Homo sapiens: one gene and its partners. The protein of the gene in region 7 purifies or fractionates together with the protein of the main gene of each other region. This does not show direct contact. Each region holds a gene or a part of one and is shown on either strand. Other genes may lie near its edges.

Region 1 (4,017 bases), on a different chromosome or scaffold from region 7:
CACGGCAGGCGGGGGGCCGGGCCCTGGTGGTGGAAGGCCAGGCGGTGAGCCTGCGCTGCCGAGCGGTGGGTGACCCCGAGCCGGTGGTGCACTGGGTGGCACCTGATGGGCGGCTGCTGGGGAACTCCAGCCGGACCCGGGTCCGGGGGGACGGGACGCTGGATGTGACCATCACCACCTTGAGGGACAGTGGCACCTTCACTTGTATCGCCTCCAATGCTGCTGGGGAAGCGACGGCGCCCGTGGAGGTGTGCGTGGTACCTCTGCCTCTGATGGCACCCCCGCCGGCTGCCCCGCCGCCTCTCACCGAGCCCGGCTCCTCTGACATCGCCACGCCGGGCAGACCAGGTGCCAACGATTCTGCGGCTGAGCGTCGGCTCGTGGCAGCCGAGCTCACCTCGAACTCCGTGCTCATCCGCTGGCCAGCCCAGAGGCCTGTGCCCGGAATACGCATGTACCAGGTTCAGTACAACAGTTCCGTTGATGACTCCCTCGTCTACAGGTGGGTGCGGGTGCTGCAGTCCCAGGGCCTCCTCCCAAGCCCAGGGGGACCCTCCCTCCCACCTGCCCATTCCCTTGGCCTTCTTGCTCAGCCAGGGTTCTAGATGGCTGTGAGAGCTGTTCCCGCCCTCCTTTGCCCTGTCTCCTCTCTCTATTTCTCACTGTCTCTGTTTTTCGTGCTTATAGAAAATATTCGCTGAGCACCTACATGAACCCGACCAGGGCTGGGCACTGGAGTCCTAACAGTGACTGAGCTCAGCATGAACCCTGCCCTCATGGGGCTCATGGTCGATATCACTGCTCCCCACAACAATCTGATTGTGCACCTCTTCAGTTAAACATTTTGGAGCATGAAACACACACACACATTTACAGTGACATTTATTTATTTGTTTGTTTTGAGACTGAGCCTTACTCTATTGCCCAGGCTGGAGTGCAGTGGCACGAACTCAGCTCACTGAAACCCTCCGCCTCCCGGGTTCAAGCGAATCTCGTCCCTCAGCCTCCCAAGTAGCTGGGATTACAGATACCCACCAACACACCCAGCTAAGTTTTGTATTTTTAGTAGAGACAGGATTTTACCATGTTGGGCAGGCTGGTCTTGAACTCCTGACCTCAAGTGATCCGCCTGCCTTGGCCTCCTAAATTGCTGGGATTACAGGTGTGAGCCACCGTGCCTAGCCTACAGCGACATTTATATTTATAAATTATATACCAGTACTACTGAACCAACACATTGGGTACATTACAGAAACAGAAAACAAAACGTATGAGAAAAATATGTTATTTCCACCCTCACTTGGGTTTGAAGCCATTGCCCTGGTGGGGACAGACCATACGGTGTCAACAGACATTTTAAAAAAAGAGTTATTTTCTCCCATCGCCTCCTTATTTCTCCTTTCACCTCTCTGTCTGTCTCTACCTTCTCTGCCCTCGTTAGGCACAGAGCCCCTGCTTTGTGCAAACTCCTGAGCTGGGTGCTGGGGACACAGGGAAACCACCCAGACCCTGTCCTCAGGGAGCTTATAGCCCAGTAGGTCGTGGTCCATAGTACACTATGAGTTGCAGTCCTGGCCTTGCCATGTCTCTCCATCTCAGTAGTTTTTTTTTTTCTTTTTCTTTTTTTTTTTTGGCAGGGTCTTGCTCTGTCACCCCAGGCTGGAGTGCAGTGGTATGATCATAGCTCACTGCAGCCTCAAACTTTTGGGCTCCAAGCAATCCTCCTACCTCCTGAGAGTAGCTGGGACTATAGGTGTGCACCACCACACTGGGCTAATTTAAAAAAATTTTTAGTAGAGATGAGGTCTTGCTATATTGCCCAGACAGGTCTTGAACTCCTGGGCTGAAGTGATCCTCCTGCCTTGGCCTCCCAAAGTGCTGGGATTACAGGTGTGAGCCGCTGCACCTGGCCCATCTTGGTAGTTTTTTAGTATGGCTCTCTGCCACAGAATTGTCACACAGTAGGCACTTGATAAATGGTAGTTTGCCACATGGATGTCTCTCCTTCTAGCTCTGCCTCCCTCATGCACATTGTAGAGCACCAGTTAAATGCTTCAGTCATCTGCTTGGCTTCACCTGGAGATGCCAGCGGGGCTGGAGCTGTTTCCCTACCTGTGGAGAGCCCCAGCTCCTGGCTGTCAGATCTTCACCGAGAAACCTGCCTCTTGGCCTCCATCTCTGCCTTTCCAGTGTTTTCTTGGCCATAGGTGTGGCACATAGTAGGTGCTTTCCCAGTGTTGGTTGAATGAAAAAAATGCCTCTTGGCCGGGCGCGATGGCTCATGCCTATAATCCCAGCATTTTGGGAGGCTGAGGCGGGCGGATCACTTGAGGTCAGGAGTTCAAGACCAGCCTGGCCAACATGGTGAAACCCTGTCTCTACGGAAAATACAAAAATTAGGCAGATGTGGTGGCACGTGCCTGTAATCCCAGCTACTCAGGAGGCTGAGGCAGGAGAATCGCTTGAACCTGGGAGGCGGAGGTTGCAGTGAGCGGAGATTGCGCCATTGGGTGACAGAGCGAGACTCCCTCTGGAAAAAAAAAAAAAAAAAAAAAAAGCCTCCCTTTTCTTTTGTCTCTGTCTTCCTCATTTCCCTCTCTTTTTGATTCTGGTCCCAAACACTGAGTAGATGCCTACTGTGTGCCCATCTTGTGTTGGGCCCTGGGCCTACTGAGATAGGTTAGATCCTGGCCCAGCCTTACAAACATGAGGACAAACAAATGAACAAAACACAAACCTTCACAACGAACTTCCAAGCTTGATCTTCCCAGCTCCGCTATGAAGGCGTGATGACCCCCTCTCCATTTCAAAGACAGAAAAACTGAGGTTCAGTGGGGGATGTCACTTGCCCAAGGTCACACAGAAAGTAGCAAAGCTGTCCTTTATACACTGACACACATTTGTTGGGCACCCACTGCTTGGAAGGGAGATGGATAATATATTTCTGTAAATAATTCTGAGCTTCTGTGACTCTCCACTTCTCTGTCCCTCTCTTTCCTTTGCTCTGAGCCATGGCCACCACATGGTGGGGTGGGGGAGGTTCACAAGCCCCCAGACCCTGCATGGATGCAGATGTTGATGGCCCCCTGTCCCCAGCTGGGCAACAGACCCTGGGACTCTTCTCTTCCCTGTAGGGCCCCAGTTCCAGTTCTCCAACCCCCATTGCAGATTCCTATGCTATGGTGCCGCAGGGGTTAACTTCCTCACGCTGTCATGGGCGGAGGTGGCAGCCAACCAGAAGCCTGCTTAGCTGCTTGCTTTAATTCTGCAGCCAATTAGAGACACTTGGGCTGAAGCTTTCTTAAGGAGCCAGCCTCTGTCCTTGAAAAGGGGTGGGGGAAGCCCCTAGCAACTGGCTATTTAGGGGAAGGAGCAAGTGGAATCCAGGGCTCTGGAGAGGAGAGATGAAGAGAGGAGGAGGAAGGCTTAAAGCCAGGGCAGCCGAGGGTGGCTGGGGTGGGTGGCAGTGGTCTTTGAAATGGCAGTCAGGGGTGGGTAGAGTGGAGTTGGAGAAGTGGGTGGACCTTTATGAAGGGGCGGGGCCCTGATTGGAAGTCTTTTGGTGGGAGGGTGGCTCTTGGTAGTGGGAGAACCTCCTGGAGGTGGGATGACAGAGGTGGAGCTTCAGGGCCAGAAGGTGGCTCTGCTGGAGGGGAAGCGGAAGCATCGGAGAGATAAGCAGGCCTTCGGAGGTGGGGATGTGGCCTGTCAGAGGGGGTGGAGCTTGTTCTGCATGGTCCCACGAAGAGGAAGGGGCAGTCCTTGTCTCCCGGGACCCACCAAGAGTCTTTGCTGGAGAAGAGAGCTTGTGAGGTTGCATCCTGGCCATGCCAATCAATGTGGAACGGGCAGTCCAGGTTTAGCTGAGGCTGGACATGGCCCACAGTGTGGAAACGATGTGCTCAACAGAAGAGGGCCAAGGCCTAGCAGGAATGGCCCTCCAGAGGGGTAGATCTTATAGATGGGAGGAATGCAATGGGCTGGATAGTGTGAGCCACAGCAAGGGTTACTGGCCAA
Region 2 (4,017 bases), on a different chromosome or scaffold from region 7:
CCTCATTGTCAGTAATTAATGAATTGCTTCCCAATTCACTGAGAAAATTGAAGCAAGCAGAAGAGAACTTCTGCAGACTTCCATTACTACAAATAGCTATCAACACACATCTTTACCCAGTTACTTGGCCTTTATACCTTGTACTATGGATCAACTACTCATGCTCCTAAGTCCATTATTTCTGTTTATATTGTACATTCCATTTCCACTTGCCTACTAATAGGCATTGCCTAAGAAATTCTCCCCTCTCTTTTCTACATTGTATTTTCACTACTAAGTATTACCATTAACATGTTAAAAAAATTCTTTTAAGGAAAAAAAAAACCCAAATATTTTGGCTCTGTTATTTCCCCTTTATTTTATTTTATTTTTATTTTTTTTGAGATGGAGTCTCACTCTGTTGCCCAGGCTGGGGTGCAGTGGCATAATCTTGGCTCACTGCAACCTCTGCTTCCCGGGTTCAAGCAATTCTCCTGCCTCAGCCTCCCTAGTAGCTGGGATTACAGGCGCCTGCCACCACACCTGGCTAATTTTTGTATTTTTAGTAGAGACAGAGTTTCACCATTTCGGCCAGGCTGGTCTTGAACTCCTGACCTCAAGTGATCCACCTACCTCAGCCTCCCAAAGTGCTGGGATTATAGGCATGAGCCACCGCGCCCAACCTATTTTATTCTATTATTTTATTTTATTTTATTTTATTTTTTGAGACAGGGTTTCGCTCTGTCACCCAGGCTAGAGTGCAGTGTGGTGTGATCATGGCTTACTGCAGTCTTGACCTCCCTGGACTCAGATGATCCCCCCACCTCAGCCTCCAGAGTAACTGGGACTACAGGTGCATGACACCATGCCCAGCTAATTTTTGTATTTTTTGGAGAGTTGGGGTTTCACCTTGTTGCCCAGGCTGTTCTTGAACTCCTGGGCTCAAGTGATCAGCCTGCCTCGGCCTCCCAAAGTGTTGGGATTACAGGTAAGAGCCACCACACCCAGCCCCTATTGTTTCTTTTATTAATAGGTATACTTTCCCATGTCTTGTTTTTTTTTGGACCAAAACAACTCCATAGAGTTGTCTCTATGTACCATTTCCAGCTTCTTTCTTTCTAATGTGTCTTTCTCTAAAATACTTTTTATTGCAGTAAAATATATATAACATAAATTTACCATCTTAGCCATTTTTTAAGTGTACAGTTCAGTGTCATTAATTACATTTACAATGTTGTACAACCATCTCCATTATCCTTTTCCAGAACTTTCTCATCACCTAAACAGAATCTCTGTACCCATGAAACGTTAACTCACTAATTCTCCCTTCTGTAACTGTAAATGGGTTCATTGCCCAATGCACACAGCAAGTCAATAAGCTGAGACTCCAGGTTGCAGCAGAGAAAGGTCTAATCATAGGGCCGCCAAATGAGGAGATGGAGGAAAACCTCAAATTCATCTCCCGTAAGAGATGGGGGCTAAGGTTTTTTAAGGGTTTTGAAGTGGGCCGAAGTGTGGCAATTGTTTATTTGTTAAAGAGTACAGGATGAAGTCATGGGACAGGGAGATGAAGAAGCTGTATTCTCTTGCAGATCCCGTTCCTCTGTGGGGGACTTCAAACTGGTTGCTGGAATTCAGGGGTCTGAAAAACATATTAAGCAATCCTTAAACAAAAGCCTTATGATTATAATGTCAGAGATCCTGTTATAGGAAAGATGGGGATAGAAATAAAATCTTAAAGTTTTATGACCCTAATGTCAGAAATCCTATTCTGTAGGAACAATAGGAATGCAAATAGTCAGTATCTAGTGCTATATGACTTTTAGCAACCAGGAAGTGGGCCAAAGTGCGGCCTGATTAATGCTTAATTATAACTATATTTCTGTCCAGAACCTGGCATGCACTTCTTGTGAACCCTGTGGGGGCAGTTTCACTCCCACCCACTAATATCTTCTACTTGCTGTTTTTATGAATTTGCTTATTCTAGGTACCTTATATAAGTGGGTTAATATAATATTTATCCATTTGTGTTAGAGTTAATTCACTTAGCATAGTGTTTTCAGGGTTATTCATGTTGTAGCATATATTAGAATTTCATTCCTTTTTATGGCTAATATTGCATTGTGTATATATGTCATATTTTATCTGTCGATGGTGGGGCTGTTTCCACCTTTTGGCTATTGTGACTAATGCTGCTATGGATATTGATATACAGGTATCTATTTGGTTCTTTGCTTGCAATTCTTTTGGGTATTTAGCTGTAAATAGAATTGCTGAGTCATATGAGTAATTCTATGTTTAAGAAAAGATTATGGTAAAATACATACAAAATTTACCATTTTGGCTGGGCATTGTGGTTGACGCCTGTAATCCCAGCACTTTGAGAGGCCAAGACGGGAGAATTGCCTGAGCCCAGGAGTTTGAGACCAGCCTGGGCAACATGACGAAACTCTGTCTCTGGGGGAAAAATAAAATAAAATAAAATAATAAAAAAATAAAAAATAAATCTTTTTCTTACTATCTTAACAGTATTTAATTATGTTAAGTACATACTTAACACAACTGTTAAGTATGTACACATGGTTGTGCCTCCAAACTCCAGAACTTTTTCATTTTGCAAAACTGAAACTCTGTACCCATTAAACAACTCCTCATTTCTCCATTCCCCCCAACCCCTGGCAACCACTATCCTACTTTATTTCTAAGAGTTTGACTACCCTAGATATCTTATGTAAGTGAAAACATACAGTATTTGTCTTTTTTTGACTGCCTTATTTCACTTAGTCAATCTATGTTTAACTTTTTGAGGACCCACCAGACTGTTTTCCGTAGTGGTTGTGCCATTTTACAGTTCTATCAGCAATATGTAAGGGTTCCAGTTTCTCCATGTGCTCACTGACACTTATTTTTCTTTTTCATGGTAATCATCCTATTTGGTGTGAAAAGTGGTATCTCATTGTGGTTTTGATTTGCATTTTTCTAAACAACTAGTGATATTGAGCATCTTTTCATGTACTTGTTGACCTTTTTTGTATATCTTCTTGGAGAAATGTGTATTTGAATCCTTTGCTCATTTTTGAATTGCATTGTATTTATATATTTTATATATAGGGAATATTTATCCCTTACCAGATATATGATTTGCAAATATTTTCTCACAATTTGTAGTTTGTCTTTTCACTCCCATGATGGTGTCCTTTTTTGCACAGAAATTTTAAATTCTGATTAAGTCAAATTAATTTTTTCTTTTGTTACCTTTTGCTTTTTGTGTCAATCCAAGGAATCATCACCAAATCCAATATCATGAAGATTTTCCACAATGTTTTCTTCTAAGAGTTTTATAGTTTTAGCTCTTACATTTAGGTTATTGATCATTTTAAGTTAATTTTTCAATATCGTATAAAGTAAGGGTCCAATTTCATTCTTTTGCTTGAGGATACCAAATTTTACAAGCACCATTTGTTGAAAAGACTGTCCTTTCCCCATTGAATGGTTTTGGCACCCTTCATGTCACAGTCAATTAACCATGTTAGAGAGGGTTTATCTCTCTCTCTCTCTTTTTTTTTTTTTTTTTTTTTTGAGACAGGGTCTCATTCTGTTACCTAGGCTGGAGTACAGTGGTGCTATCTCACTGCAGCCTTGACCTCCCAGACTCAAGTGATCCTCCCACTTCAGCCTCCCGAGTAGCTGGGACTACAGACACACAGCATCATACCTGGCTAATTTTTGTATTTTTTTTTGTAGAGTTGTGGTTTCACCATGTTAAGGCTGGTGTTGAACTCCTGGGCTCAGGTGATCAGCCTGCCTCTGCCTCCCAAAGTGCTGGGATTACAGGTGTGCACCACCATGTCCAGCCTCTTTTTTTTCTTTTCTTAGAGACAGGATCTCACTTTGTCATCCAGGCGGCAGTGCAGTGGCGTGATCATAGCTGACTGCATCCTCCTGGACTCAAGTGACTCTCCCATCCCAGCCTCCCAAGTAGCTGGGATTACAGGCATGTTACTGTCACGTCAGGTAATTTTAAAGTGTTTTGTACAG
Region 3 (4,017 bases), on a different chromosome or scaffold from region 7:
CTAGAAATATGAAAATTAGCCGGGTGTGGTGGCAGGTGCCTGTAATCCCAGCTACTCGTGAGGCTGAGACAGGAGAATTGCTTGAACCCGGGAGGCAGAGGTTGCAGTAAGCCGAGATCATGCCATTGCACTCCAGCCTGGGGGCCAAGAGTGAAACTCCATCTTTTTTTTAAAGGAGTGCTGTTTTTCCTTTCTTGCCTAATCTAGCCCCCTCCTGAGTCCCTGTGAACCTCTGGTATCAACTCAGTTTGGGCCCAGTAGAAAGGAGTGGCCTAGAATAGAAAAATCTCCTATCCATCTTTTACAATTTGTCTCTATTTTTGCCTTCCTATTTCCAATCAGTGTCACTTCCCTCTTCTTTTAAAGTTCTTTTGACTTCTTGAAGGGTTTGGCCTTTAAGAAAAACCAGAATGTCAAAGTTAAAAGGATCTCCACTCCTCCCAACCCCTGCTCTTCTCCCCTTTACAGGCAAGAATCAAGGCCCACTGAAGGGAAGGGATGGGCTCAGAGCTACACAACTGGGGTACTGCAGAAGCCCGCCTAGAATGCAGGGCTCCTGGCTTTCAGTTTAGGGCTCATTCCCTTTCAGCAAATCACTGGGAATTTTTATCTTCCTAGCGTTTCCATCTCAGCAGATGTTACTTACCTCTTAGCTAGAGAGAGGAACAGAAACATATTAGGGTCAAGACAGCTATCTCTGTGATGGAAGCATCTATCAACTTTTCGAGTCTCTGGAACATGGAGAGCTAAGAAATGTGGCAATACTTGGCAAACACTTCGTCTTTCTGGCCCCTAGTCACACACAAAAAATAATAATTAAAAACACTTTTAGTTCCTTCTTCAACTTAAAAATACCCCTCCAACTAGTCTAGCGAAAAACACCCTCCACAGTAAACCGTTTCCTGGGCCTCATCTGTTCCCTTAACCTCCTGGGAAGGCTGACTCAGGCCTGATTTCCTCCGAGAGGCCTGCGATTTTGCTTCCCAGCATCCTGTGACTCTTGAGACGTGAAGCGAGGCAGGATGGCTGAGACCCAGGCCACTCTGACCTGCCTGTGGATGTGGTTCAGGTTCTTACACATGTCCTGTGCAGTTCACACTACCACCCCATCAAATCTATTTGCTCTACTTAATTTTAATATGAGATGCACTAATATGCATATAAAATTAAAGGCTCTGATGCATGTGCCTCTGCCAAGGACCGTTACTAACAAGATGATTCCACTTCAAAAGACTGCAAGACTGTTCTGATATCCAATCCTCAGATGCTCTGAAAGCTTTCATAAATGGAATTGTTTCTTAATTTCCTTTTTGGCTTGTGTATTACTGGTGTGTAGAAACACAGCTGATTTTTGTGTGTTGATCTTGTCCCTTGCAATTTTGCTGAATTTATTAGCTCTAGTAGCTTTTTTGTTTCTGGATTCTTTGGGATTTTCTATACATAGGATCATGTCAACTGTGAATAGAAATAGTTTTACGTCTTTCTTTCCAATTTGAATGATTTTTATTTATTTTTCTTGCCTAATTGCTCTGGCTAGAACTTTCAGTATAATGTTGAGTGGCAGTGGTGAAAGCAGACATCCTTCTCTTGTTCTTGATCTTAGGGGGATTTCTTGATTTTAGCCTTTCACCAGTGAGCGTGATGTTAGCTGTGGGCTTTTCATAAATGTCCTTTGTGTTGAGGAAATCATCTTCTATTTCTAGTTTTCTAATCATTTTTTTTTAATCACAAAGGGGTGTTGAATTTTATGTCAAATGCTTGTTTTCTGTATCACTCGAGATAATCCTGTGGCTTGTTTTTTGTTTCCTTCATTGTGTTAGTGTGGTGCCTTACACTGATTGTTTTTCTTAAGTTGAATCACTCTTTTAGTCCTGGGATAAATCCCTCTGAATTTTTTTTTTTTTATCTGCAAAGTTTCATTTTTTTTTCCCCTGTAAAAAGACAACAAAATTTGACTAAGTGCTAACATTTTACATTAGGATGGGTTGATGTATTTAATTATACTTTTCATTATAATTAGTGTACTTTAAACATCTAACAATTATATTGTGGTAAATATGTATAACCTACAATTTACCATTTTAGCCACTTCTAAATGTACAGTTCAGTGGCATTAAATGCATTTGCATTGTTGTATAACCATCACCTGTAGCCATCTCTGGAACTTTTTTACCTTCCCAAACTTAAACTCTGTACTCATTAAAGAGTAACTCTCCATTCCCCTTCCCTCCTCCCCAAGGCCCCGGCAACCGCCATTTTACTTCCCATCTCTATGAATTTGTGAACATTTTTTAATAACTAGAAGTTAGGCATTAAAGGGTTAAAGGGCTGTATCTTCCTGTCTTCCAGTTTCCCACCAACTCCCTCCAGCCGGAGGGGCCACCACTGGCCCTGATGCAGAGATGAACTGATTGCTGGTCATCCTGAGACTCAGAGGGCACCACGCCCAGCCTCAGCGCGGGCTTCATTTCCTCTAGCTCAGGGATTCTCCATCTTGGTTGCACATTAGCACCACCTGGGGAGCTTTTAAAAATGACCAATTCCTGGGCCCATCCCCAGAGATTCAGCTTCACTTGGTTTGGAATGTGGCTTCAGTGTCTGTCATTTTTAAAAGCTCCCTAGGTGATTTTGATGCACTGTGAGGGTTAGAACTACTCAATGGTTGAGCTGATTTACTCGCTGGAACCCTTGACTGGTCACAGCTTTCAATGACGCAATTCCCTCCCCATCTGGTCGGTAATACTGACCCACTTTACATCCCTTCCCTGATTTTAAAATCCATTTGTAAATAGAGTAAATACCAACTTCTGTAAAATGAAACTTTCAAAGTTGGAAAGAAACTTAAGTGTCATGTAGCTTTTTCTATTCCAGATACATCAAATCCCCCTAAAACATCCCCCTCAGAGGTCATCCAGCTTGGACACCTCTGTTGCTGGGGCATTCCTGCAACACTATGTTGAAATCATCTTATTCTATATTTGGACAGCTCTGTCTCTCAGAGTTCCTCATTGTATTAATCTGTCAGGGATATGACTTCCACCCATCGCTGAAAGATCCCAAAAGCTTAGTGGGCTTCACCAAAATGCATCCCTGAATAAAGTGGAGGATATTCAAAATAAGTCATGCAGAATAAGTGTGATTGCCTACAGAGTGTCAGCCTTTCAATATTTGGGAACAACTACCATGCATCTGTCCCCATCTTTTCTTCTCTGGTCTCAGCAGCCCCACTTCCTTCAGATTTTCACTGGATGTGTCCCCATGTTTTTTCAAGGAAGGTTGATATATGACGTAATAGCAAGATTGTGGACCATGACATAACTAAGACTTGAACTCAAGGTTCAAACATTGACTTTGCACCTGAAGTCCTTAGCGAGATGAGCATTTAGGAAATATTGGCAATTGAAATTATATCCTCCACATGAGCATCATCGCTACACTCTGTGTGACCTTGGGCAGGCCATGGAATCTCTTAGAGACTCTGTTTCTTCCCCAGGAAAAGTGGAATGAAAATGCCTTACTCCTGGGACAATGTTTTCCAACTTGCCTCAGCTTTCAGTCCTAACCTCTTCCTTCTCCTCCTCGTCATTCCACAACCCCACACCTGCATAGATTCCTATGATCTGGCAATTTCAAAAAATACAGTCAAAGAGTGATTGCATGAATCAAGTGAGACCATGTCAGACCTGACTCAGTCTCTGGGATGCTCAATGTGTGTGCTTAATAAATGCCAGATTTAATCTTTTTTCTTTTCTTTTTTTTTTTAATTAATTTATTTATTTTTATTTATTTATTTTTTATTTGAGACAGAATCTCTCTCTCTGTCACCCAGGCATGTAGCTTTTTCTATTCCAGATACATGTTGGCCAGGCTGGTCTCAAACTCTTGGCCTCAAGTGATCTGCCTGCCTCTGCCTCCCAAAGTGTTGAGGATTACAGGCGTGAGCCACTATGCCCAGTCTCATCCTATTTCTTACTCACCTTCCTCATTATATGCATCACCCTTTAAATGCTAGTTTCT
Region 4 (4,017 bases), on a different chromosome or scaffold from region 7:
GGAGGGATAGCATTGGGAGATATACCTAACGTAAATGACGAGTTAATGGGTGTAGCACACCAACATGGCACGTGTATACATATGTAACAAACCTGCATGTTGTGCACATGTACCCTAGAACTTAAAAAAATAAAATATTAAAGAAAAAGAAATTTCTTCTAAACCCTGTGTTTTCAGTAAAGTGCCTCACCTTCTAATATCCAGAGACCCTTAGTTTTATTATCTCGAAAGTAGAACCTTCCAGTCTCCTGGCAGGTGGCAGGATGGTGGGGGCCAGTGCGCAGAAGCACACTCAAGGCAAGGGCTCTGCAGGTCCAACTGCCCCTTACACAAACTGTGACCAGAATCTCCTGGTTTTAGCTTCACCGCCTGCTCCCTGCTGTCCCCAGTCCCAGAGCCCTGTGGGGACTGAGTGCTGTCAGTGAGATTGCCTCCTGGTTTTTCCTCACTGCCAGCCTAGCATCGGGTTTTCTCAGCTCTGCTAAGCCAGCTGCCACCGGGCCATCTGCTGCTCATTTTCCAGCTTTTGTTGCCATTTTCTTCTCTCCCGTTATCTTTGTCCTCGTGTTGTTTGTTATCATTTAGTGTTCTGTGCTGTTGTTTAGTGTTTTTTATTAATGCTTATTGCTTGTTAATGTTGTAGTGTCTTGTTTTAACAGGATTTGGGGATGACAGAGCTAAGGGCCTTTTTCAATTTTCCACTTTTAACCAGAAGACACGGCTATAAAACAAAACAAAACATGATTTTCACGGAGAAAACTGAAAGGAAATTGGTTAAATTGGCTGTTTTCTTGTTTAGTTCTTTTAAGACAATAGAACTTGTCATTGAATGGAACATGCTTTGTGGGGAAGTAAAATTTGAGATATACTTTGAAGGATGAGAAACGGGCTTCTCACAGCATTGCACAGAACACCGCGGTGAGGAAAATCTCAGGCTTCCTCTCACTCTGACATTTCCTAATCCTAAAGGACTTAACGCCAGAAACGCAGAAGCTCATTAGTGGCTTTGTGTGTTTGTTTTGCAGATGGTGTCCTCAGACCGAAGCCAACTTTCCTTTCTGCCCACAGAAGCTCAAGCCCAGGTGTCGCCGCCACCCCCTTACCCTGCACCCCAGGAGCTCACCCAGCCCCTCCTGCAGCAGCCCCGCGCCCCTGAGGCCCCTGCCCAGCAGCCCCAGGCAGCCTCCTCACTGCCACAGTCAGACTTTCAGCTTCTCCCGGCCCAGGTGAGTTCTGGCAGGAGCGTTGGTGCAGAGGGAATGCTTGTTTTGCTCTGAGTTCCAAGCTAAATGATCATCTCCTTATTCCCTGAAGGGCTCATCTTTGACCAACTTCTTCCCAGATGTGGGTTTTGACCAGCAGTCCATGAGGCCAGGCCCTGCCTTTCCTCAACAGGTGGGTGATCGCCCCTGCCTTCTCCTCCCTTGGTGCATAAACTGTACCATTTAGGTTGTTCATTCTGTAGAATTCAGAACTGAGCAGACCAGACATGCCACTTTCCTGGTTCTGGTTGTGTTCTGTGGCTAGAAGAGCCTTTCATCTTCTTTGGCCCTAAAATGCTTTCTCTGGCTGCCTTATTTAGTATCAGGCTTCAGCAGAGGAACTATTGGAACAATCGGCAGGAGACTTTTGATGACACTCTCGTTGTAGAACTGTAAAATCATGAACACTGGAAGGGACACAGCACCTGCCTCCTCAGCGCCCTCATGTTGAAACTGAGGCATAGGGAGAGTGGCGCCTGCTCCCACCGCAGAGTCAGAAGGTGGCGCCGCATTTGGCCTGCACCCAGGCTGGTGCACCCAGCACAGCGTGGGGCCTCCTGGGGAGAGCTCAGTCCTGGGGAGTGAGGGGAGTGCGTTCCGTAAGGTATTTTCAACTCGGCCACTTTCTTTTACAGTTTAGTTTTTTCCTAACATTGACTATTTTTAATATTCTAGATTTTATAGTATTCAATAGTATTCAATAAGTATGGACTGGGCCCTCCGATGGATTAAGGAGTGGAAGAAGGGTTGAACAGGTTCCAGAACTTTTTTTTTTTTTTTTTTTTGAGACAGAATCTTAATCTGTCGCCTAGGCTGGAGTGCAGTGGCGTGATCTCGGCTTACTGCAACCTCCACCTCCTGGGTTCAAGTGATTCTCATGTCTCAGACTCCTGAGTAATTGGGGTTACAGGCATGTACCCCTACACCTGGCTAAATTTTATATTTTTAGTAGAGATGGGGTTTCACTTTGTTGACCAGGCTAATCTTGAACTCCGGACCTCAAGTGATCCACCCGCCTTGGCCTCCCAAAGTGCTGGGATTACAGGTGCGAGCCACTGTGCCCAGCCAAGAACTTAATAAAATAGCTGGGCATAGTGGCTCACGCCTGTAATCCCAGCAGTTTGGGAGGCCGAGGCGGGCGGATCATGAGGTCAGGAGATCGAGACCATCCTGGCTAACACGGTGAAACCTTGTCTCTACTAAAAAATACAAAAAAATTAGCTGGGCGTGGTGGCAGGCACCTGTAGTCCCAGCTACTCGGGAGGCTGAGGCAGGAGAATGGCGTGAAGCCGGGAGGCGGAGCTTGCAGTGAGCTGAGATCGCACCACTGCACTTCAGTCTGGACAACAAAGCAAGACTCTGTCTCAAAATAAGTAAATAAAATAATAATAATAAAATAAATTAAGATAGCTGTTTCCTAAGCAGGCCACAGATGAAGCTTTGTGGCAAGAACCAATCCTCCTTGCCTCCCTGTTTCCCAAAGAGCCATTTTAGTCTAGGTGGGAATCACCGTCTCCCTGAAAAATGATAGACACTTCTTTTGAGACTTTTTTTAAAATGGCTTAGAAAATTAATTTCAGGAAAGGAACCTAAAATTGGCACTGGTTATAACCAGTCCTCATAGAGGCTTTCTCATAGGGAGGAGCTTGCCTGAGTTTCCTCCTTCTGAGTGTGAAAAGGAAAGCCTTCCCCTTTCTCAGTTTTCTAGAAACCAGGGAAGAGGCCAGGTGCAGTGGCTCACACCCATAATCCCAGCACTTTGGGAGGCCAAGGCCAGTGGCTTACTTGAACTCAGGAGTTTGAGACCAGCCTGGGTAAAATACAGCAAGACCCTGTCTCTAAAAAAAATACAAAAATTAGCCAGGCATGGTGGCATGTGGTCCCAGCTATTTGGGAGGCTAAGGTGGACGGATTGCTTGAGCCTGGGAGCTGGAGGTTTCAGTGAGCCGAGATGGCGCCATTGCACTCCAGCCTGGGCAACAGAGACCCTATCTTTAAAAAAAAAAAGAAGAAAGAAACCAAGGAAGAAGAGTCCATACTTCCTTGGTTATAGACAGAGCCTTTGAAGGGTTCCCACAGAAGGCAGTTTGCAAAGGCCTTGGTGAGGCTGAGGACAGATGTCTGAGGGGCCACAGAAACCATGAGCATTGGTGTCTCTTGGGATGGTGTAGTGGGCTGGGGAAAAGTCACCACGCTGTGGACCTCAGGGACCCCTCCTCCACCCCAGCGTCTGCCTGCCTGACAAGAATATTGTGCATGCATTACCATAAGAGCAAAGCACTCTGGGATCCTGGAAAGAAGGGAATATGGATTAGTTTGCAAGTCAGGTTTTGCTCTGGGAGCACATTGCAATACTCACTTCCTCCTTGGAAACAGAGGTGTGGCCTTCCTCACATGACCTTCGATGCTTCCAGGTGCCTCTGGTGCAACAAGGTTCCCGAGAACTGCAGGACTCTTTTCATTTGAGACCAAGCCCGTATTCCAACTGCGGGAGTCTCCCGAACACCATCCTGCCAGGTGAGCGAGCTATCCCTCAGCTTCTTTACTGCTTTTATGTTGTTGTGTGTTCAGGAACCTTCATAAGAGAGTTTAAACAACATAATATTATATAAAGCAAAAAGTTAACGTTCCCTGGGTCGACTTGACTTTTTGAGATGCAGGTGTCCAGCCTCAGAGACCGTGACACAGGGCGGTGGGCCTGGTAGTCAAAGCCTTTTCTGAAAGATTTCATCTGGCCCAGTGCGGTGGCTCACGC
Region 5 (4,017 bases), on a different chromosome or scaffold from region 7:
AACAGGAATGGGTTGGCCTGCCTCTCTCACTTCCGCCTTCCCAGGCAGTGGTATCCTGCCTTCCCCTTCCTGGCTGGAGACTTTGTGGGGCTTGGGCTGGGCTTGGGGCTCCCTGCTGGTGTGGTGTTTGCCCAGTTGTCCTGGCAACCACAGGGCAGTGGTGAGGAGTGACATGCAGTGACCTGAGAACTGTGTGTAGGTACAAAGAAGTGGAGACCTAGCCCTCCCATAAGCCCATTGGAACTTCGTGCACTCCCTGAGCCACTCGGCCCATTGTCCATGTGGGGACTGGACCCAAGGTCTTGGAACCCAGCAGGCCCTCCACTGCCTTCCCCTCCCCAGCAGCCTTCCTCTCCCCAGCCGGTTCTCCGTAAGACCAGAGTTCTGAGATCTCTGCCGAAGCTCCTGCCCTCCCCCTGCTGTTACCCTTCTTCCTGTCTGATTCCCTTTCCTTTCCTGTCTCCTCCTCCCACCTCCTCCCTGCTGCCTGCCCGCCCATCCTCTTATTCCCCCTCCCCCCAGGCACAGCTGCTGTTTGGCTCACTCTATATATAGCGGCATTTTCAGGGTAATTACAATAAAACTGTTGAAAGGAGATAATCCAGCAAAGGAAGCGAGTCTTGACTCCCAGCCCCCTCCTGTCCCTGGCTTGGTGCAGCCCTGCACCCCCTTTCCCCGAGGCCTCCTGTTCCCACCCCACCCCCATTCCCACAGCCTCTCCCTCCTGCCCAGTCTGCCCCAGATAGGGATGAGGCCCCAGAAGGGGACAGAGGGTAGAGATATCCAGAAGGTCTCCACCAGCCTCTCCTGGGGTTACCAAGGGCACTGTCAGTCCTAGAACCAACCTCTGTGCCTCAGTTTCTCTTCTAGTATGAGGCTTTGCATGGGGCACGGTGTTGAGAAATGGGAGCGGGCACAGTGGTTAAAAGCTTAGGATTTGGACTCATATTCTAGTTATTGGATCACCTAGCTGTGTCTGGTTGCTACTTAAACTTCTCTAAACCTCAGTTTCCTCATCAGTAAAATGGGGTAATAATAGCATCTAAGTCATAGGGTAACTGTGATATTTAAATGAGTCATTGTAAAATGCCCAGAGATGTTGACTATCAATGATAATATTATGTGTTGAAGGCTGGGCAGTGGCTCACGCCTATAATCCCAGCACTTTGGGAGGCTGAGGTGGGAGGATCGCTTGAGCCTAGGAGTTTAATTCAGCCTGGGCAACATAGTGAGACCCTGTCTCTACTAAAAAATTAAAAATTAGCCTGGTGCATTGGCATGCTCCTGTAATCCCTGCTACTTGGGAAGCTGAGGTGGGAGGGTTGCTTGAGGTCGAGGCTGTCATGAGCCACGATCATGCCATTGCATTCCAGCCTGGGCGACAGAGCAAGACCTTGTCTCTGATATATATATAGGTAGAGAGATAAATACACACACATATGTATGTGTGTGTGTATATATATATATACACACACATACGTACACACATATATATACACACACACACACAGATACATAAAATGCGTCGAGTAGTCACAATCTGTCAGGTACAGCTTCATGCTTATGCACATTTTCTTTATTTTTTTGAGATGGAGGCTCGCTCTGTCGCCCAGGCTGGAGTGCAGTGGTGCGATCTTGGCTCACTGCAACCTCCACCTCCAGGGTTCAAGCGATTCTCCTGCCTCAGCCTCCTGAGTAGCTGGGACTACAGGCGTGTGCCACCACGCCCAGCTAATTTTTTTTGTTTTTAGTAGAGACAGGATTTCACCATGTTAGTCAGGATGGTCTTGATCTCCTGACCTCGTGATCTACCCGCCTCAGCCTCCCAAAGTGCTGGGATTACAGGCAAGAGCCACCGCGCCCGGCCTCCCCCTTTTTGTTTTTTGTTTTTTTTTTTTCTGGAGACAGTCTTGCTCTGTCACCCAGGCTAGAGTGCAGTTGCATGATCTTGGCTCACTGCAACCTCCGCCTCCCGGGGTTCAAGAGATTCCCATGCCTCAGCCATCTGAGTGGCTGGGATTACAGGTGTGCACCATCACGCCCAAATAATTTTTGTATTTTTAGTAGTGAGGGGGTTTCATCATGTTGACCAGGCTGGTCTCAAACTCCTGGCCTCAGGTGATCTGCCTGCCTCAGCCTCCCAAACTAACCTGAGATTACAGGTGTGAGCCACCGTGCTCAGCCTGTATTTTCCTATTGAAGTTCATGGCTTCAGCCTCATTTAATTAAGGTAAAATGTTGCATCCATGGAGCAGAGGGATTTGACTTCCTCTCTGTCTCTGTTCTCTTTGGGTCTCCTAGAATCCTGCGTGGTAGCCTTTGGGCCTCAGGCATGACTGGAGTCTGGGGCTGGGCCCACTAACTCCTTCCTGTCTCTTCTGCCCACAGTGGAGGTGAAGCCGGTGCTGCCAAGAGCCATGCCCAGTTCCATGGGGGGTGGGGGTGGAGGCAGCCCCAGCCCTGTGGAGCTACGGGGGGCTCTGGTGGGCTCTGTGGACCCCACACTGCGGGAGCAGCAACTGCAGCAGGAGCTCCTGGCGCTCAAGCAGCAGCAGCAGCTGCAGAAGCAGCTCCTGTTCGCTGAGTTCCAGAAACAGCATGACCACCTGACAAGGCAGCATGAGGTCCAGCTGCAGAAGCACCTCAAGGTGAGCGAGGGGGGTGCGGGGGGCCGCCCAGACCTCCGATCCCCGCCCGGGCCTGGCTCACTTGTGCCTCCGTTCCCATGCCCCTGCAGCAGCAGCAGGAGATGCTGGCAGCCAAGCAGCAGCAGGAGATGCTGGCAGCCAAGCGGCAGCAGGAGCTGGAGCAGCAGCGGCAGCGGGAGCAGCAGCGGCAGGAAGAGCTGGAGAAGCAGCGGCTGGAGCAGCAGCTGCTCATCCTGCGGAACAAGGAGAAGAGCAAAGAGAGTAAGGCAGGGCCTCCTGGGACCTCGTAGGGCCCCGCCCGTGATGCCTGCCCCTGCCATGGGGGGTCTGGCCCCAAGCAGCCAGGTCAGTTGTGCCCTGTCCTGCAGGTGCCATTGCCAGCACTGAGGTAAAGCTGAGGCTCCAGGAATTCCTCTTGTCGAAGTCAAAGGAGCCCACACCAGGCGGCCTCAACCATTCCCTCCCACAGCACCCCAAATGCTGGTAATGGCCCTGGGCAGGCATGGGTGGGCATAGGTGAGCCGCTCAGGGGCTGCCTGGCTATAGGATGGCAAGGGGCTTCTTCCCCGTGCCCATATACGGGCCCTGCAATCTCTCCTTAGAGACAGGACCCCCATCCCTGGTTTATTTCCTCATTCCTTCCCCAAGATCCACGTCCTCTTCCTATATACAAACGATTTTTCATAAATGTAGATTGCCAGGTGGCAGGTCCAGCAGACTGGGTGATAACCTAGATCTGCTTCCATCCCCACCCCCCCCCCACCCCAGGGGAGCCCACCATGCTTCTTTGGACCAGAGTTCCCCTCCCCAGAGCGGCCCCCCTGGGACGCCTCCCTCCTACAAACTGCCTTTGCCTGGGCCCTACGACAGTCGAGACGACTTCCCCCTCCGCAAAACAGGTGAGTGAGTCCCCCACCTGGCCTCCCAGAATATGGCTCCTGGGAGGCAGAGGTGGGCTTGTGGCAGTGTCAGCCCTGACCCCAGTGGGCTCAGCTGCAGATGTGTGCTGCTGTGCGCGTATCTGAACCTCGGTTACCTTCTCTCCAGCCTCTGAACCCAACTTGAAAGTGCGTTCAAGGCTAAAACAGAAGGTGGCTGAGCGGAGAAGCAGTCCCCTCCTGCGTCGCAAGGATGGGACTGTTATTAGCACCTTTAAGAAGAGAGCTGTTGAGATCACAGGTGCCGGGCCTGGGGGTAAGGGCTGCTCTCATGTACCTGTTCTGAGGGTCTGGGAATCAGGGGTCGGGGGTAGTTCACAGCAGGCCCAGGTGACAGCCACTTCTCCTATAGCGTCGTCCGTGTGTAACAGCGCACCCGGCTCCGGCCCCAGCTCTCCCAACAGCTCCCACAGCACCATCGCTGAGAATGG
Region 6 (4,017 bases), on a different chromosome or scaffold from region 7:
TTTTATTATAAGAATGTGCTGGCCGGGCACGGTGGCTCACACCTGTCGTCCCAGCACTTTGGGAGGCCAAGGCGGGCAGATCACAAGGTCAGGAGATCGAGACCATCCTGGCTAACACGGTGAAACCCCATCTCTACTAAAAATACAAAAAATTGCCCAGGTGTGGTGGCAGGCGCCTGTAGTCCCAGCTACTCGGGAGGCTGAGGCGGGAGAATGGTGTGAACCTGGGAGGCGGAGCTTGCAGTGAGCCGACATCGCACCACTGCACTCCAGCCCGGGCGACAGAGTGAGACTCTGTCTCAAAAAAAAAAAAAAAAAAAAAGAATGTGCCACAAATTATTTGGCTACACCCAAATTGTTTGGATTGTTTCTTATTTTTTACTGTTATCAACAATAGAGAACATTGGGTGTGAGCATGTCCAAGTCTTTCTGGAGTGTAAAATTTTAGAAGTAGAGTTGCTGTCCAAAAAGTGTACACATTGACAATTTTGCCAAGTTTTGAGTGCCCTTGAAAGAATTATAGCATCTTCTGATTCCACCAGTAATAACAGTGTCTTTTTCTTCACATCCTCATCAACCATGGGTATTATTCATCTTTTTAATTTTTGCCAATATGATGAGTGAAAATGCATTTTTTTAACTTTTTTTTTTTGAGATGGAGTGTTGCTCTGTCACCCAGGCTGGAGTGCAGTGGCGTGATCTTGGCTCACTGCAACCTCTGCCTCCCAGGTTCAAGTGATTCTCCTGTCTCAGCCCCCCGAGTAGCTGGGATTACAGGCTCATGCCACCGCGCCTGGCTAATTTTTGTGTTTTTAGTAGAGACGGGGTTTCACTGTGTTGGCCAGGCTGGTCCTGAACTCCTGACCTCAAGTGATCCACCTGCCTCGGCCTCCCAAAGTGCTGGGATTACAGGCATGAGCCACCACACCAGGCCGAAAATGCATCTTTTAATGATGTGCCTCACATGTTACTAATACAAGGATAAGTATATACATGTGTATATAGACACACACACACCATATGTATATACACGTATACCATATATGTGTGTGTACAGGTACATACACACACACACACACACACACGCAGACGCATATACACCTTCAGCCAACTGATCATGGCTATGCACCTTGGGAAAATTGGGAAACTACCCCAAACCCTAGCATTTTCATCTTTATTTATTTATTTATTTTTGAGACGGAGTTTCACTCTTGTTGCCCAGGCTGGAGCGCAATGACACGATCTCCCTCACCGCAGCCTCCACCTCCTGGGTTCAAGCGATTCTCCTGCCTCAGTCTCCAGAACTTTATTCATGGATATTCCTATTTTATTTTTGTTCTGTCCTTTACATAAGATTACAGACATAAGATTAATGCTTTTCCCTCTTCTAACCTCTTTCTCTTCTCCAGCAGAAACAGTGCCAGGGCCTTACAATGTGTTTTGGATGGTGACATAGCATCAACCCCCCTCTGCATCTTGGTCCCCACCCCGTCCCCTCCACTACCAAGCTGGAAGCACTCTGGTTTGTCCAAGTTCTAAAGTGCTGTGCCCAGGCCCAAATGCCATCCCCTAAGTTGCTGGTCTATGATTCTTTTTATTTTTATGATTTTATTTTAGTTTATTTTATTTTTGAGACAGAGTCTCGTTCTGTCACCCAGGCTGGAGCGCAGTGGTGTGTTCTCGGCTCACCGCAACCTCCGCCTCCCAGGTTCAAGCGTTTCTTGTGCCTCAGCCTCCCAGGCAGTTGGGATTACAGGTGAGCACCACCACTCCCGGCTAATTTTTGTACATTTTTAGTAGAGACAGGGTTTCACCATGTTGGCCAGACTGGTCTCGAACTTCTGACCTCAGGTGATCCACCTGCCTTGGCCTCCCAAAGTGCTGGGATTACAGGCGTGAGCCACTGTATGATTGTTTTTAATTCAAACACGTAACTACCAGGAAAGCTGTCATGAGCACATAACCCCAAATACCTTCATTTATTTATAAATTACATATACATATACTTATGTATTGTATGTTTTACATACATTCCAAAGAAGCTTCTTAACTTTTATCATTAATTTTAGTGAGATCAATTTCTCCCTTAATGAAAACAGCCTGGAAGTTTTTTTTCCTGTTCTCATTGGATACATATCTTGCTGATTGTGATGGATTCATACTTTGAATTCTCTTTTAATGATAATGGATATAAAACCTTGTTTCAAATAGTCTTGAAAAGATACCAACCCCTCCTCCTGCCTTTTTTGGCCCATTTCTTGTCAGATCCAGTTAACCCGTTACTGCTTTTATTTCATAATGTAGTGAAGGAAGACCTTACGCCCAGGAGGAGCAGTGAGAGGTCGGCTGTTTTCTTTTTGCTCACTTGTGCCGTCATTGTTGTTCTCTTCAGTCTATGGCTTCTTAGAAGGATTCTTTGTAAGCTGTGTGCGTGATATAAATTAAAATTGAATAATATAGGCCAGGCGTGGTGGCTCAGGCCTGTAATCCCAGCACTTTGAGAGGCCAAGTTGGGCCAGTCGCTTGAGCTCAGGAGTTCGTGACCAGCCTGGGCAACATGGCGAAACCCCGTCTCTACAAAAGACACAAAAATTAGCTGGGCCTAGTGGCGCGTGCCTGTGATCTCAGCTACTTGGGAAGCTGAGGTGGGAGAATCGCTTGAACCTGGGAGGTTGAGGCTGCAGTGAGCCGAGATCACGCCACTGCACTCTAGCCTGGGCAACAGAATGAGACTCTGTCTCAAAAAAAAAAATAAATAAATAAATAAAATAAAAAATTGGGTGATATATGGGGAAAAAAAGAACACTAACCCCTGTTTTACATCATATACAAATATTAATTCAAGATGAATTATAGTCACAAATGTGAAATGCAAACAATAATATTACCAGAAGTTAACAGAAAATATCATCATGACCTTGGGGTAGGCAATTTTTTTTGGGGGGCGGGGGACAGGATCTCACTCTGTCACCCAAGCTGGAGTGCAGTGTCATAATCTCAGCTCACTGCAACCTCTGGCTCCTGGGCGCAAGCAATCCTCCCACCTCTGCCTCCTGAATAGCTGGGACCACAGGCGTACACCACCATGCCCAGCTAATTTTTTGTATCTTTGGTAGAGACAGGGTTTTGTTTGCCATGTTGCCCAGGATGGTCTTGAACTCCTGGACTCAAGTTATTTGCCTGCCTCTGCCTCCCAAAGTGCTAGGATTTATAGGCATGAGGCACCATACCCAGCCTGGGGTAGGCAAACATTTTAAAAATACAATACAAGCACTAATCATTAAGAAATAATAATAAATTGGGCTGGGTGCAGTGGCTTATGCCTGTAATCCCAGCACTTTGGGAGGTCAGGAATTCAAGACCAGCCTGGCCAACATGGCGAAACACCATCTCTGCTAAAAGTACAAACATTAGTTGGGTGTGGTGGCAGGCGCCTGTAATCCCAGCTACTCAGGAGGCTGAGGCAGGAGAATTGCTTGAACCCAGGAAGCAGAGGTTGCAGTCAGCTGAGATCACATCACTGCCCTCCAGCCTGGGCGACAGAGTAAGACTTGATCTCAAAATAAATAAATAAATAAATAAATAATTGGATTTCATTATAATTAAGAACTTCTGGCTGGGAGCTGTGGCTCACACCTGTAATCTCAGCACTTTGGGAGGCCGAGGCAGGTGGATCACGAGGTCAAGAGATTGAGACCATCCTGGCCAACATGGTGAAACCCCGTCTCTACTAAAAATACACAAATTAGCTGGATGTGGTGGTGCGTGCCTATAGTCCTAGCTACCTGGGAGGCTGAAGCAGGAGAATCGCTTGAACCCGGGAGGCGGAGGTTGCATTAAGAAAGCAAAAAGAGGCCGGACGCGGTGGCCCACACCTGTAATCCCAGCACTTTGGGAGGCTGAGGTGGGTGGATCACCTGAGGTTGGGAGTTCGAGACCAGCCTGACCAACATAGAGAAACCCTGTCTCTACTAAAAATACAAAAATTAGCCGGGCGTGGTGGCGCATGCCTGTAAT
Region 7 (4,017 bases):
AGGGACAGTGAGTATTTCTCTTACAACTTAACTTTGAATGACTTTATTATTGTCCCCTAGTCCATAGATGTTTTCATCCAAAGAAGATAGAGGTCTGTGATCCAAGAAATTTGAAGCAGTGACTTAGAGCAGAAATAGGGATCATGATACTTTGAATAATGCATAAAGAAGGAAACCTTTCTAAACAAAAGGGACACAAATGTTGCTTTTTTGGCAACGGGATGCATACGGTCTGTGGAATACCATTTGCTTCAGGTCCAGGGATGTAGAAAACTCCCCTTGGTTTAGTCTTCACACTAAAGGGCCAGGACAAGCCCTTGGAAGGGAGGTTTTAGTGTGAAGTGGTTAGCCGTTACCTGTGCTTCGAGTTCTGTTTGTGTCTTAGTTTGGATTCCCCCAAAAGTAGACCCCAAGACAAGGATTCAGAGGTAGACGTTTATTTGGGAACTGATCCCAGGAAGCACAAGAAAGGAAGTAGGGACAGTAAGGCGGAGATGGAGGCTCATAAAGGGTACATTGATGAACAGGTTGCTGCTCACGTGTAGGATATCAAAACTGAATTCTTTAAAAAATCTGAACTCCTGGTTTTTCTGTCAAACCCCATCTCTCCTAAGGATGCCCTTCCAGTTATTTTGGCAGAATACTTAACTCCACACCTTCTGTTTTCTCCTGCAGTCTGTCCACTAGAAATTCTAATGACTCTGCCTTTACCTCCGTTGCTACCACCCTGGTCCCAGCCACCATCCTCTCTCATCTGGGTCATTACAGTGGACTGCAAGCTGGCCCGCAGCTTCCCCCATAACCTACCCTCTGTTGTCTAATCTCAACAACAGAGCCAGAGCAATCCTTTGGAAATGTAATTCAGGTCTTTGTCATTCCTCTGCTCAGAATCTTCAATGGCTGTCCATTTCATCCATAGTAAAAAATAAAGTTCTTCTGGAGGTCTCCCAGCCCTAGACGGTCTTACTTCTTATTGCCTCTCAGATGTCATCTTACATGGCTCCCAGCACACACTGCTCCATCCCTCCTGTTGCCTTAGCTTCTCCCTTTGTTGTGATGTTCTTCCTCCATTTATCTCCATGGCTCATCCCTCGCCTCCTTCACACCTTCTTTGATCCCATTTTGATGAATGAATGACATGAGAAGTTTCTGGTATAGTTTGTAGTGTAGGTTCCTGTACAGTTAGGTGCTATATAAATGGTAGCGACTATTATTATCTTATTTAATTCCCACAATAGCATTATGTGGTAGCTGCTAGTATTATCCTTATTTTATGGCGAGGTAAACTGAGGCTCAAAGAGGTTGGTTAGCCTAGAACAGTGGCTCTCAAAATATTTTGACTGACCCACAGGAAGGAATACATTTTACATCTCAATCCAGTCCATGCTTGCTTATGTGGGTATGTACATATATATAATAGAAACAAAAGTTTCTCAAGCTCATAATTAGCCTTATGACATTTGATGCATTCTGATATTTTCTACTCTGTCCTAGTCATTTATTTTTTAATTGCTAGTTTTAAACCACCAAGTTGAGTTTAAGAACCCCTTTTGACAAAGACTATCCAAGCCTTTAAATCTGTACCTTTAATTCTGTGTTACAGCTTTTCCCTGTGGCAACATCTGAACTAGCTTTGTCAAAAATTATTAGTGCTAAAAACTCCTCAGTACCCAGCTGAGTCAATACGTGTAACATTATAAGCTTATGTCTTTTTCTGCTGATCTCTGTAAAAGATGGTAAGGGTTTCTTCATACAAATAGATGTAAAGAAAGTATAGTAGGATTAAGGAAAATTTAAATGACTAAGAGAAGAAAAAGGAAGGGAAATTATCAAGTAGTCACAAATAGAATAATTTTTTAAAAAAATAGAGGAATTAAAATTTACCATTTACTTTGAAAGGATGGTAGGCGGGAGTGGACAGAAACTTGGTACAGTCTGACCAAAGTAGTTGTTTGTGGACAGGCTAAAGGCATCATCTCTAGAAGCAAAGTCCTGTGTCTCAGTCGGTTAAATTGAGTCGCATCTTATCAGGGAGTCAGAAGGAATTGTATACCGTGTGTGGCCACTCCCAGGTTGACAGCCTAGGAGACTCTGGGCTCTTCCTGAAGAGCCTGGTGGCTGGGGTAACCAGCAAAGGCCAGAAGAGAACCTACAAATGAGCTGGGGTCAAGTTTGGTTCATCTACAGTTTGCCCGCTAGAGAAAGATAAAACCGTCACAGATAGTTACTTGGGATTCATGTAATCTTAAAAATAAATGTCTTAACAATATTTGAAAGAAAATATGGCATTATAAAATGAAAGGGATGAGCCAGCTGTGGTGGCTCACACCTGTAATCCCAGCACTTTGGGAGGCCGAGGCAGGCAGATCACGTGAGGTCAGGAGTTCGGGACCAGTCTGGCTAATATGGTGAAACCCCAACTATATAAAAATACAAAAATTAGCTGGGCGTGGTGGTGCACGCCTGTAATCCCAGCTACTCAGGAGGCTGAGGCAGGAGAATCGTTTGAACCCAGGAGGCAGAGGTTGCAGGGAGCCAAGACTGAGTCATTGCACTCCAGCCTGGGCAACAGAGCGAGACCCTGTCTAGAAAAAAAAAAAAAAAATGAAAAGGATGAGGTGTTAGAGGAACAGAAGCCTAAATAAAGGGTCAAATACACAGAGTCAGGCATTGTCTCTGCATGAAATGGCTTTGTCTGCATCGAGAGTATGGTGGGGTTAATCTGCCCACTTTCTTTGATACTGAATTAGATGCCTATTAATCCTGCAATTTCTGAAAGTTAAGTGCACATTTGTTGAGTTTTCTTTAGATGAACTCTTTGCAACAACCCTGCAAGAGGAGGGCACAGTTGTCATTCCTAACTCAGGTGAGGGATCTGCCACACCGAGAGGCTAACAGAAACACCCAAGGACAATCAGCCAGCCTGCAAGGAACTGGCATCTCAACCCAAGTGTCTGGCACCAGAGCTTGCACTCTACCACTAGGCCTCCTCTTCTCATGTTTAGATTTGAAGAGCATTTCAGTGAAATATCAGTTTAAACTCTTTAATTAAATTTAGAACTAGGCTAAAGTTTCCTTTGTGCTATTGTTGAAAATGTGATTTGGTAAGAAAATAGTATTCATGAGATTGCAAGGCAAATAGCATAAGAAAGAAAACAAACTTATTCTTCAACACTTCTAATCTTTTTTTTGTTTTTTTGTTTTTTTGTTTTTTTTTTTTTTGAGACAACGTCTTGCTCTGTCAACCAGGCTGGAGTGCAGTGGCGCAATCTTGGCTCACTACAACCTCCACTTCCCAGGCTTAAGTGATTGTCATGCTTCAGCCTCCTGAGTAGCTGGGATTACAGGCACATGCCACCACCCTCGGCTAATTTTTGTATTTTTAGTAGAGATGGAATTTCACCATGTTGGCCAGGCTTGTCTCGAACTCCTGACCTCAAGTGACCTGCCCGCTTTGGCCTCCCAAAGTGCTGGGATTACAAGCGTGAGCCACCGTGCCTGGCGTAAACACTTTCATTAGTAATTAGCAAATAATTTTTTGCTTTCCAAATTCTTTTCTATTTTTAAAGGTCTCTTGGCCAGGCTCAGTGGTTCATGCCTGTAATCCCAACACTTGGGGAGGCTGAAGCAGGAGGATCTCTTGAGCCCACGAGTTGGAGACCAGCCTGAGCAACATAGTGAGGCCCCATTTCTAAAAATAAAAAATAAAAAAAATTACCCAGGTGTAATTAGTCCATTTTCACAATGCTAATAAAGACATACCTGAGACTGGGTAACTAACAAAGAAAAAGAGGTTCAGTGGACTCACAGGTCCATGTGACTGGGGAGGCTGTGTAATTATGGCAGAAGGCAAGGAGTGCAGGGCACATCTCACATGGTGGCAGGGAAGAGAGAACTTGTGCAGGGGAACTCCTCGTTATGAAACCATCAGCTCTCCTGAGATTTATTCACTATCACAAGAAGAGCATAAGAAAGACCTGCCCCCATGATCCAGTTACTTCCCACTGGGTGCCTCCC

What was found.
Region 1: the proteins of ZBTB21 (region 7) and LRFN1 purify together in Homo sapiens (affinity purification with mass spectrometry, with the first as the bait; one large-scale study listed by BioGRID). This does not show direct contact.
Region 2: the proteins of ZBTB21 (region 7) and TESK2 purify together in Homo sapiens (affinity purification with mass spectrometry, with the first as the bait; one large-scale study listed by BioGRID). This does not show direct contact.
Region 3: the proteins of ZBTB21 (region 7) and NAV1 purify together in Homo sapiens (affinity purification with mass spectrometry, with the first as the bait; one large-scale study listed by BioGRID). This does not show direct contact.
Region 4: the proteins of ZBTB21 (region 7) and CRTC3 purify together in Homo sapiens (affinity purification with mass spectrometry, with the first as the bait; one large-scale study listed by BioGRID). This does not show direct contact.
Region 5: the proteins of ZBTB21 (region 7) and HDAC5 purify together in Homo sapiens (affinity purification with mass spectrometry, with the first as the bait; one large-scale study listed by BioGRID). This does not show direct contact.
Region 6: the proteins of ZBTB21 (region 7) and CBY1 purify together in Homo sapiens (affinity purification with mass spectrometry, with the first as the bait; one large-scale study listed by BioGRID). This does not show direct contact.

What each region holds. Positions count from the first base shown.
Region 1 is NC_000019.10:39,310,416-39,314,432, reverse strand, and holds part of LRFN1 (leucine-rich repeat and fibronectin type III domain-containing protein 1 precursor), read left to right. Parts: coding exon 1-502; intron 503-4,017. UniProt on the Homo sapiens protein: Promotes neurite outgrowth in hippocampal neurons. Involved in the regulation and maintenance of excitatory synapses. Induces the clustering of excitatory postsynaptic proteins, including DLG4, DLGAP1, GRIA1 and GRIN1.
Region 2 is NC_000001.11:45,452,883-45,456,899, reverse strand, and holds part of TESK2 (dual specificity testis-specific protein kinase 2), read left to right. Parts: intron 1-4,017. UniProt on the Homo sapiens protein: Dual specificity protein kinase activity catalyzing autophosphorylation and phosphorylation of exogenous substrates on both serine/threonine and tyrosine residues. Phosphorylates cofilin at 'Ser-3'. May play an important role in spermatogenesis.
Region 3 is NC_000001.11:201,541,610-201,545,626, forward strand, and holds part of NAV1 (neuron navigator 1), read left to right. Parts: intron 1-4,017. UniProt on the Homo sapiens protein: May be involved in neuronal migration.
Region 4 is NC_000015.10:90,637,421-90,641,437, forward strand, and holds part of CRTC3 (CREB-regulated transcription coactivator 3), read left to right. Parts: intron 1-1,025; coding exon 1,026-1,226; intron 1,227-1,314; coding exon 1,315-1,395; intron 1,396-3,621; exon of another isoform or gene 3,622-3,676; coding exon 3,677-3,779; exon of another isoform or gene 3,780-3,837; intron 3,838-4,017. UniProt on the Homo sapiens protein: Transcriptional coactivator for CREB1 which activates transcription through both consensus and variant cAMP response element (CRE) sites.
Region 5 is NC_000017.11:44,092,206-44,096,222, reverse strand, and holds part of HDAC5 (histone deacetylase 5), read left to right. Parts: intron 1-2,388; coding exon 2,389-2,648; intron 2,649-2,737; coding exon 2,738-2,909; intron 2,910-3,016; coding exon 3,017-3,131; intron 3,132-3,416; coding exon 3,417-3,547; intron 3,548-3,695; coding exon 3,696-3,842; intron 3,843-3,938; coding exon 3,939-4,017. UniProt on the Homo sapiens protein: Responsible for the deacetylation of lysine residues on the N-terminal part of the core histones (H2A, H2B, H3 and H4).
Region 6 is NC_000022.11:38,659,561-38,663,577, forward strand, and holds part of CBY1 (protein chibby homolog 1), read left to right. Parts: intron 1-4,017. UniProt on the Homo sapiens protein: Inhibits the Wnt/Wingless pathway by binding to CTNNB1/beta-catenin and inhibiting beta-catenin-mediated transcriptional activation through competition with TCF/LEF transcription factors.
Region 7 is NC_000021.9:41,996,781-42,000,797, reverse strand, and holds part of ZBTB21 (zinc finger and BTB domain-containing protein 21), read left to right. Parts: intron 1-4,017. UniProt on the Homo sapiens protein: Acts as a transcription repressor.